Linked DNA regions of Homo sapiens. The protein of the gene in region 1 interacts with the protein of each later gene in a pairwise test. Each region holds a gene or a part of one and is shown in the gene's direction. Other genes may lie near its edges.

Region 1 (3,654 bases):
GGAAATGGACCAGAGGCAGTTTCCCAGAATAGGTCATTATTTGGTGTTAGTAATTGGTCATTCACGCATCTGCATACCCTTTGTTTCCTTAAGTAACTCTCCTTTCTGGTAACCACCTTAGGTTTGTCAAGGTGGAAGTCATGTGGTCAAATCAAATGGAAACACAAGTGTGTTAGGTATTAGATTCATTTTCCTGTCCCCAAAGCACCCGTTTGGTAATGCTGGCAGAAGACATACATGCGGCCAACAATCATAGGAAAAAAAGCTCCACATCACTGATCATTAGAGAAATGCAAATCAAAACCACAATGAGATCGTATCCCATACTAGGCAGAATGGCTATTAAAAAGTCAAAAAATAACAGATGCTGGCAAGTTTGTGGAGAAAAAGGAACACTTATACACTGTCGGTGGGAGTGTAAATTAGTTCAGCCATTGTGGAAGATAGTGTGGTGATTCCTCAAAGACCTAAAGACAGAAATACCATTTGACCCAGCAGTCCTATTACTGGGTATATATTCAAAGGAATATAAATTATTCTGTTATAAAGACACATGCACATGTATGTTCATTGCAGCACTATTCACAGTAGCAAAGACATGGAATCAACCTGAATGCCCATCAGTGATAAACTGGATAAAGAAAATGTAGTACATATGCAGCCATAAAAAAGAATGAGATCACGTCCTTTGCAGGGACATGGATGGAGCTGGAGGCCATTATCATTAGCAAACTAACACAGAAACAGAAAACCAAATACTGCATGTTCTCATTTATAAGTGGGAGCTAAATGATGAGAATACATCGACGCAAAGAGGGGCACAACAGACACTGGGGCCTACCAGAGGGTGGAGGGTGTGAGGAAGGAGAGGATCAGGAAAAATAACTAATGGAGAATGGGCTTATTACCTGGGTGATGAAATAATCTGCACAACAAACCCCCATGACACACGTTTGCCTGTGGAACAAACCTGAACATGTATCCCTGAACTTAAAAAAAAAATCAAATTGATAGTCTATAAACAAGCTGCCAGAGGCTCCAGTGAAACCTGGGAGCTGTGGGCAGAGCAAGTAGGCTGTCTCTGTTACACTCTGCCACCTCCTAGCGGTAGCAGCTTTTAGTTCCTGTGTCACAGAATTGAACATTTTCCTGCTTTGCAAGGAACTTTCAAAGGCTAATTCGCCTTTACTCTCACCTGCTTCCGTGGAGGAGGTGAATAAAGCCTGTATTTCAGTGATGTAGTAGTTTCTTAGGCTGCTGTAACAAAGTACCCCAAATTTGGTGACATAAAACGAGAAATTTATTCTGCACAGTTCAGGAGGCCAGAAGTCTGAAATTGAGATGGCAGTAGGGGTAGTGCTACCTTGGGAGGCTGTAGGGGAGAGTCTGTTCTTTTTCTCTTCCTACCGCTCCAGTTTCTGCTTCTGTGGTCACACTGCCTTTTCTTCTCTGTCTCTCCTTTGTACATCTTTCATTATGAGGACACTGTCATTGGATTTAGAGCCCACGTGGATAGACCAGATGATTTAATCTTAAGATCCTTACTAACATAGCGAGACCCCATCTCTACCAAAAAAAAAAAAATTTTTTTTAAAGATCCTTTTTCCAAATAAGCTTACATGCATAGGTTCCAGAGGTTTGATGTGGATATACCTTTGGCATGGGCAGGGGGCACTGTTCACCACACTATAAGTGGTTAGCGCCTTTTCTCTCCTTTAAAAAATAAAAAATCTGTAAATTCTCACTGCTGCTAGCACAGCTCTGTGTAAACCAGTGTTTTTTTTTTTTTGTTCCCTACTGAGAGCCAGCTTGCACCTTGGTCTACCAAGAGTTGCTGCTCAGTACATAGCTGCTTCATTATTTGTGTTGATTGCATTATTTATTAACACAAATAGCCATTTAGTTTTTTTAATAGAAAAAATAATTAAGATTTTGCATAATGTTTGTAAAAAATGGAAAACTTGATACAGAGATCGAAGAGGATATAAAATAAGATAAAAAATAAAAAATGGAAAATTTGATAGCTTAAGCCACTAAATTGCCCTTAAGGTGGAGTGCAAGTCAGTAACATTTCATTTTGCAGCATGTATAAAATAATTTCTGTTTTAAGGCTGTCTTTAACTGTTGCTCTTCATTTCTCTGCAGGTCTTTTAGATAACCCTGAACTTCGTGTGGTCCTTGTCTTTGGTTATAATTGCTGTAAGGTGGGAGCCAGTAATTATCTGCAGCAAGTAGTCAGCACTTTCAGTGATATGAATATCATCTTGGCTGGAGGCCAGGTGGACAACCTGTCATCACTGACTTCTGAAAAGTATGTCTTGTGTGCTTCTGATTTCGTCTGTGAATGAAGGGAAATGGTCTCAGGTTTTGTCACTTTGGGGTTAACAATTTAAAAAACGTGTTTAAAGAATTATTAAGATAATAGTTCATTCCATTTTGTAGTAGACATTGGCTAAGGGGCTTACTGAACATAATTCTGCTTACGGTTGAATAATTACATTTTTATATATATTGTCCTTCAAGAACTTCCTTGAGTCACATTCTCCTTAAAATTTGACATTGCCTGTTGATCTTTCCTTTGACAGATGTGGTACTCTGTGTGACCTCAATGTGTCACCTCCTTTCTAGTTTCCTCCTTTAAAGGAAACACATGGTTAGAGTGTATCTTTATGGCAAAACTTCTCAGAGCTTCTAATATGCCCAGTGCTGTGGAAATCTGGAAGGAGAATAGCATTACCTGTGACAGTTCCCAAATGTGTTTGGTCACAAAACTTTTTTCCACAGAATGTCTTGCAAGTCGTACTGGTTTTTGGAAATTCTGTATTAGATCTTTTGAAAGGCTTTTTCAAGCTTAAAAATTGTGGATCTTTTTTGTTACTAAGGCTTTTGCTTTCAAAGATAAAAATATTTGCTCTTCTGTCTTGGGAGCCATTACTTCCTTTCCATCTTGAATGAAAATACATATCATTTTGAGTTTGAAACAATTAGGTGGACATAAATATCATTTGTTTCCAGCAGGAAAATCAGACCCTACCCCACCCTCAATGCTTGTAAACACTACTATTTGTTTCCCACTCTGTTTAATATTTGCATCCTAGAGTGGTGACATGGGGACAGACTGTTGCAGATCAGTATCTATAAGAATAATGTAAGTCATCCTAGTTATAGTCTCTCTTCTGGTTATCTCTATGAGCTAGATCTGGGAAAATAGCTAAAGTTGAGGTCCCTGGACTGCCAGGGAGGAGGAAGAGAGGAAGGCCAAGTACGTTGAATCCCAGGCAGGATATCAAACACTGGATTTTGTGCATACATACACTGAATTCTTGGTGGCTATCTAAGTTATTTCCCCTCTTGCCTAATTTTTCCTGTGTCTTTGCTATTAACTTAAATTGTGTACGGATAGGGCAATGGTGATTCAACATACAGTTTACCTTTGAAATGCAGATACCTCACTCAGACTTATAACATCTGAGGTGCTAGCTTGTAAGTGTAGCTATTTGTATATCATCTACTTTTTATACCTAATAAGAGAAACACCCCCCACCCCAATCATTACTCTTCACATGACCCATTAATTTTAATGTGGTCTTCATACTCTGTCAGTGGTTAAGAGAAACCATTGAGTAAATGAGGGCTCCATTTTAATAAAGTCCA
Region 2 (3,654 bases), on another chromosome or scaffold:
AATTAAAATGGTATTCTCATCTCAGGCTCGTTGTTCTATCAGCTTGCCGTTTCCTTGTTCTCGTGGATATTGTTAGGAAAGATAAGGAAGAGGATATGGGCATCTTTAATTTGAAATAGATGTTTGCCTCATGAATATGAATATGGCCTTATTCCAGGATTTTAATACGCACTACAAAAAGCTTCATGTTAAAACTCATTGTTGAGCCAGGCATGGTGGCACATGCCTGTAGTCCCAGCTTCTTGGGAGGCTGGGGCGGGAGGATCACTTGAGCCTGGGAGGTCGAGGCTGCAGTGAGCTATGATCGTGCCACTGTACTCCAGCGTGGGTGACAGAGACCCTGTCTCTTAAAAATAAAACTACGTGTAACACACACACACATACTCCTCATCCATGCTTTTCTCTCATTCATTTAACCAGTTAGGCTTTTCTTACTAAGCTTAAATTTCCACTTTAGTATTATTTTTCCTGCTAGCCATATTTTTTATTGAGATATATTTTAGATAATAAAATTTGACATAACATAAAAGTCATTTTAAAGTGTACAAAGTGGTTTTTAGTATATTCACAAGCTTATAGAACTACCACCATTATCCAATTCCAGAGTGTTTTATCACCCCAAAAAGAAACCTGCACCCATTAGCAGTAACTGCCCGCTAGCTCCCAGCCCCTGACAACCATTAATTTGCTATCAATTTGCCTACTCCAGACATTTCATATAAATGGAATCATATAACACATGACTTTCTGTGCCTGCCTTCTTTCCCTCAGTGTATACTGTTTGCAAGGTTTGCCCATGTTCTAGCATGTGTTGGTACTTCATTTCTTTTTGTGGTCGAATAATCCAATGTATAGATGGACCACATTTTATTTGTTCATCAGTTGATGTACATTTAAGTTGTTTCCAATTATGAACAATGCTGCTGTGAATACATGTTTTCAATTTTCCTGGGTATATACCTAGGTATAGAATTGCTGAGTCATGTAATAGCTGAATTTTTTGAGGCACTGCCAGACTGTTCCATAGTGGCTGTGCCATTTCATATTCTCACCAACAGTGTATGAAACTTTCAGTTTCTCCATATCCTCACCAACATTTGTTATTTTCATTTTTAAAAAAAATTATAGCCATCCCAGTGGATGTGAAGTAGTATCTTGCAGTTTTTGACTTGCATTTCTCTAACAACTAATGATGTGTAGAATCTTTTTTGTGTTTATTGCCATTTGTATATCTTCTTTGGAGAAATGTTTGATCAAATTCTTTGCCCATTTTTCAGTTGGGTTATTTGTCTTTTTGTTGTTGAGTCGTAAGAATTCTTTTAATATTCTGTATACTAGATCCTTATCAAATATGTAATTTACAAATGTTTTTTCCCATTCTGTGGGTTGTCTTCTTACTTTCTTATATACACACATTTTTAATTTTGATGAAGCCTATTTTATCTATTTTTTCTTTATATTGTTTGTGGTTTTGGTGTCATTTTTAAGGAATCATTGCCTAGTCTGAGGCCAAGGACTATTCTCTCCCTATTGTTTGGTGCTGGCAAACTTGTCAAAAGTCAGTTGGCCATAGGTATATATGGGTTTATTTCTGGATTCTCAATTATTTTCCAGTGATCTGTATATCTTTACTATGCCAGTATCACACTGTCTGGATTACTGTTGTTTTGCAGTAAATCTTGAAATCGAGACCCCTAACTTCGTTTTATTTTCCCCCAAGATTATATTGGCTATTCTGGATCCCTTATGTTACCTTATGAATTTCAAGATCAGCTTGTCCATTTCTACAAAAAGTGCAGTTGAGATTTTGATAAGGATTGCACTGAATCTATAGATTGCTTTGGGGAGTATTGCCATCTCAGCAGTATTTTAAGTCTCCCACTCCATGAACATGGGATGTCTTTTCATCTATTTAGGTTGTCTTTTCTTTCAACTGTGTCTCATGGTTTTCAGTGTATGCATCTTCTACTACTTTCAATTTATTCCTAGTTTATTCTTTTTGATGCTATTATAAATGGAATTGGTTTTTAGTTTTTTAATTGAGACGGAGTCTTGCTCTGTCTCCTAGGCTGGAGTGCAGTGGTGCAATCTTGGCTCACTGCAACCTCCGCCTCCTGGGTTCCAGCAATTCTCCCACCTCAGCCTCCCAAGTAGCTGGGATTACAGGCGTGCGCCACCATGCCTGGCTAATTTTTTGTATTTTTAGTACAGACAGGGTTTCACCATGTTGACCAGGCTGGTCTTGAACTCCTGACCTCAAGTGATCTGCCTGCCTCGGCCTCCCAAAGTGCTGGGATTATAGGCGTGAGCCACCGTGCCTGGCAGAGTTGTTTTCTTAATTTCACTTTTTTCTGTTTTTTTGAGACAGGGTCTCTTGCTCAGGCTGGAGTGCAATGGTGCAGTCATAGCTCACTGCGGTATCAAATGATCCTCTCTCCTCAGCCTCCTGAGTAGCTGGCACTACAGGCGCTTGCCACCATGCTCAGCTAATTTTTGTATTTTTTGTAGAGATGGTGTTTCACTGTGTTGCCCAGATTGGTCTTGAACTCCTGGGCTCAAGTGACACTTTCACCTTGGCCTCCCAAAGTGCTGGGATTACACAGGCATGAGCCACCATGCCAGCCTGTTCCACTTTCTGATTGCTCGTTGCTAATGTATAGAAGTACAACTAAGTACCGCAGGGTGTGGTGGCTCACGCCTGTAATCCCAGCACTTTGGGAGCCCGAGGCGGGCGGATCACGAGGTCAGGAGATCGAGACCATCCTGGCTAACATGGTGAAACCCAGTCTCTACTAAAAATACAAAAACAAAATTAGCCGGGCGTGGTGGCAGGTGCCTGTAGTCCCAGCTACTCGGGAGGCTGAGGCGAGAGAATGGTGTGAACCCAGGAGGCGCAGCTTGCAGTGAGCCCTGATTGCGCCACTGCACTCCAGCCTGGGCGACAGAGCAAGACTCTGTCTCAAAAAAAAAAAAAAAAAAAGGTACAACTAATTATTGTATTTTGATTCTGTTTCCTATAACATTGCTAAATGTTTATTAGCTCTAATTTATTAGCTCAAATAGTTTTTGGGGGGATTCCTTAGAGTTTTTTGATATACTGTCATATCATCTATAAATACAGGCAGTTTTGCTTCTTCCTTTTCTTATTTGGCTGCCTTTTATTTCTTTTTTGTTTGTCTTTGTTTTTGCCTGATTCTTCTGGCTAGAATTTGTGGCAAGAACAAGCATCCTTGTCTTGTTACTGCCCTTATTGGGAAAGCTTCCAGTCTTTTACTGTTTAACTGTGATGTTAAAGAGTGATGGTGTTAGCTGTGAGCTTTTACTAGATGTCCTTTATCAGACTAAAGAGGTTCCCTTTTATTCTTAGTTTATTGAATTTTGTATCATGCAAGAGTGTTGTATTTTGTCAAAATGCTTTTTCTACTCTGTCAAAATAACTGCTTTTTTGTCTGTTAATATGGTGTATTGCACTGATGTTGAACCACCCTGGTGTTCTTAGGGTGAGTCCCACTTGGTCATGGTATATAATCCTTTTTCTATGTTGTTGGGTTTAGCTTGCCGGTATTTTCTCGAGTTTTGCATTTATATTCATAAGGGATATTGCTCCATTGTTTTCTCAAGATGTTCGTTTGGTTTTCGTGTCTGGCTAATCCT

What was found. The genes of interacting proteins can lie anywhere in the genome.
Region 2: the proteins of FBXO22 (region 1) and CUL1 interact in binary tests that used the Homo sapiens proteins (3 or more experiments, as listed by UniProt).

Annotation. Positions count from the first base shown.
Region 1 is NC_000015.10:75,927,739-75,931,392, forward strand, and holds part of FBXO22 (F-box only protein 22), read left to right. Parts: intron 1-2,145; coding exon 2,146-2,311; coding exon of another isoform or gene 2,312-2,348; exon of another isoform or gene 2,349-3,129; intron 3,130-3,654. UniProt on the Homo sapiens protein: Substrate-recognition component of the SCF (SKP1-CUL1-F-box protein)-type E3 ubiquitin ligase complex that is implicated in the control of various cellular processes such as cell cycle control, transcriptional regulation, DNA damage repair, and apoptosis.
Region 2 is NC_000007.14:148,792,809-148,796,462, forward strand, and holds part of CUL1 (cullin-1), read left to right. Parts: coding exon 1-10; intron 11-3,654. UniProt on the Homo sapiens protein: Core component of multiple cullin-RING-based SCF (SKP1-CUL1-F-box protein) E3 ubiquitin-protein ligase complexes, which mediate the ubiquitination of proteins involved in cell cycle progression, signal transduction and transcription.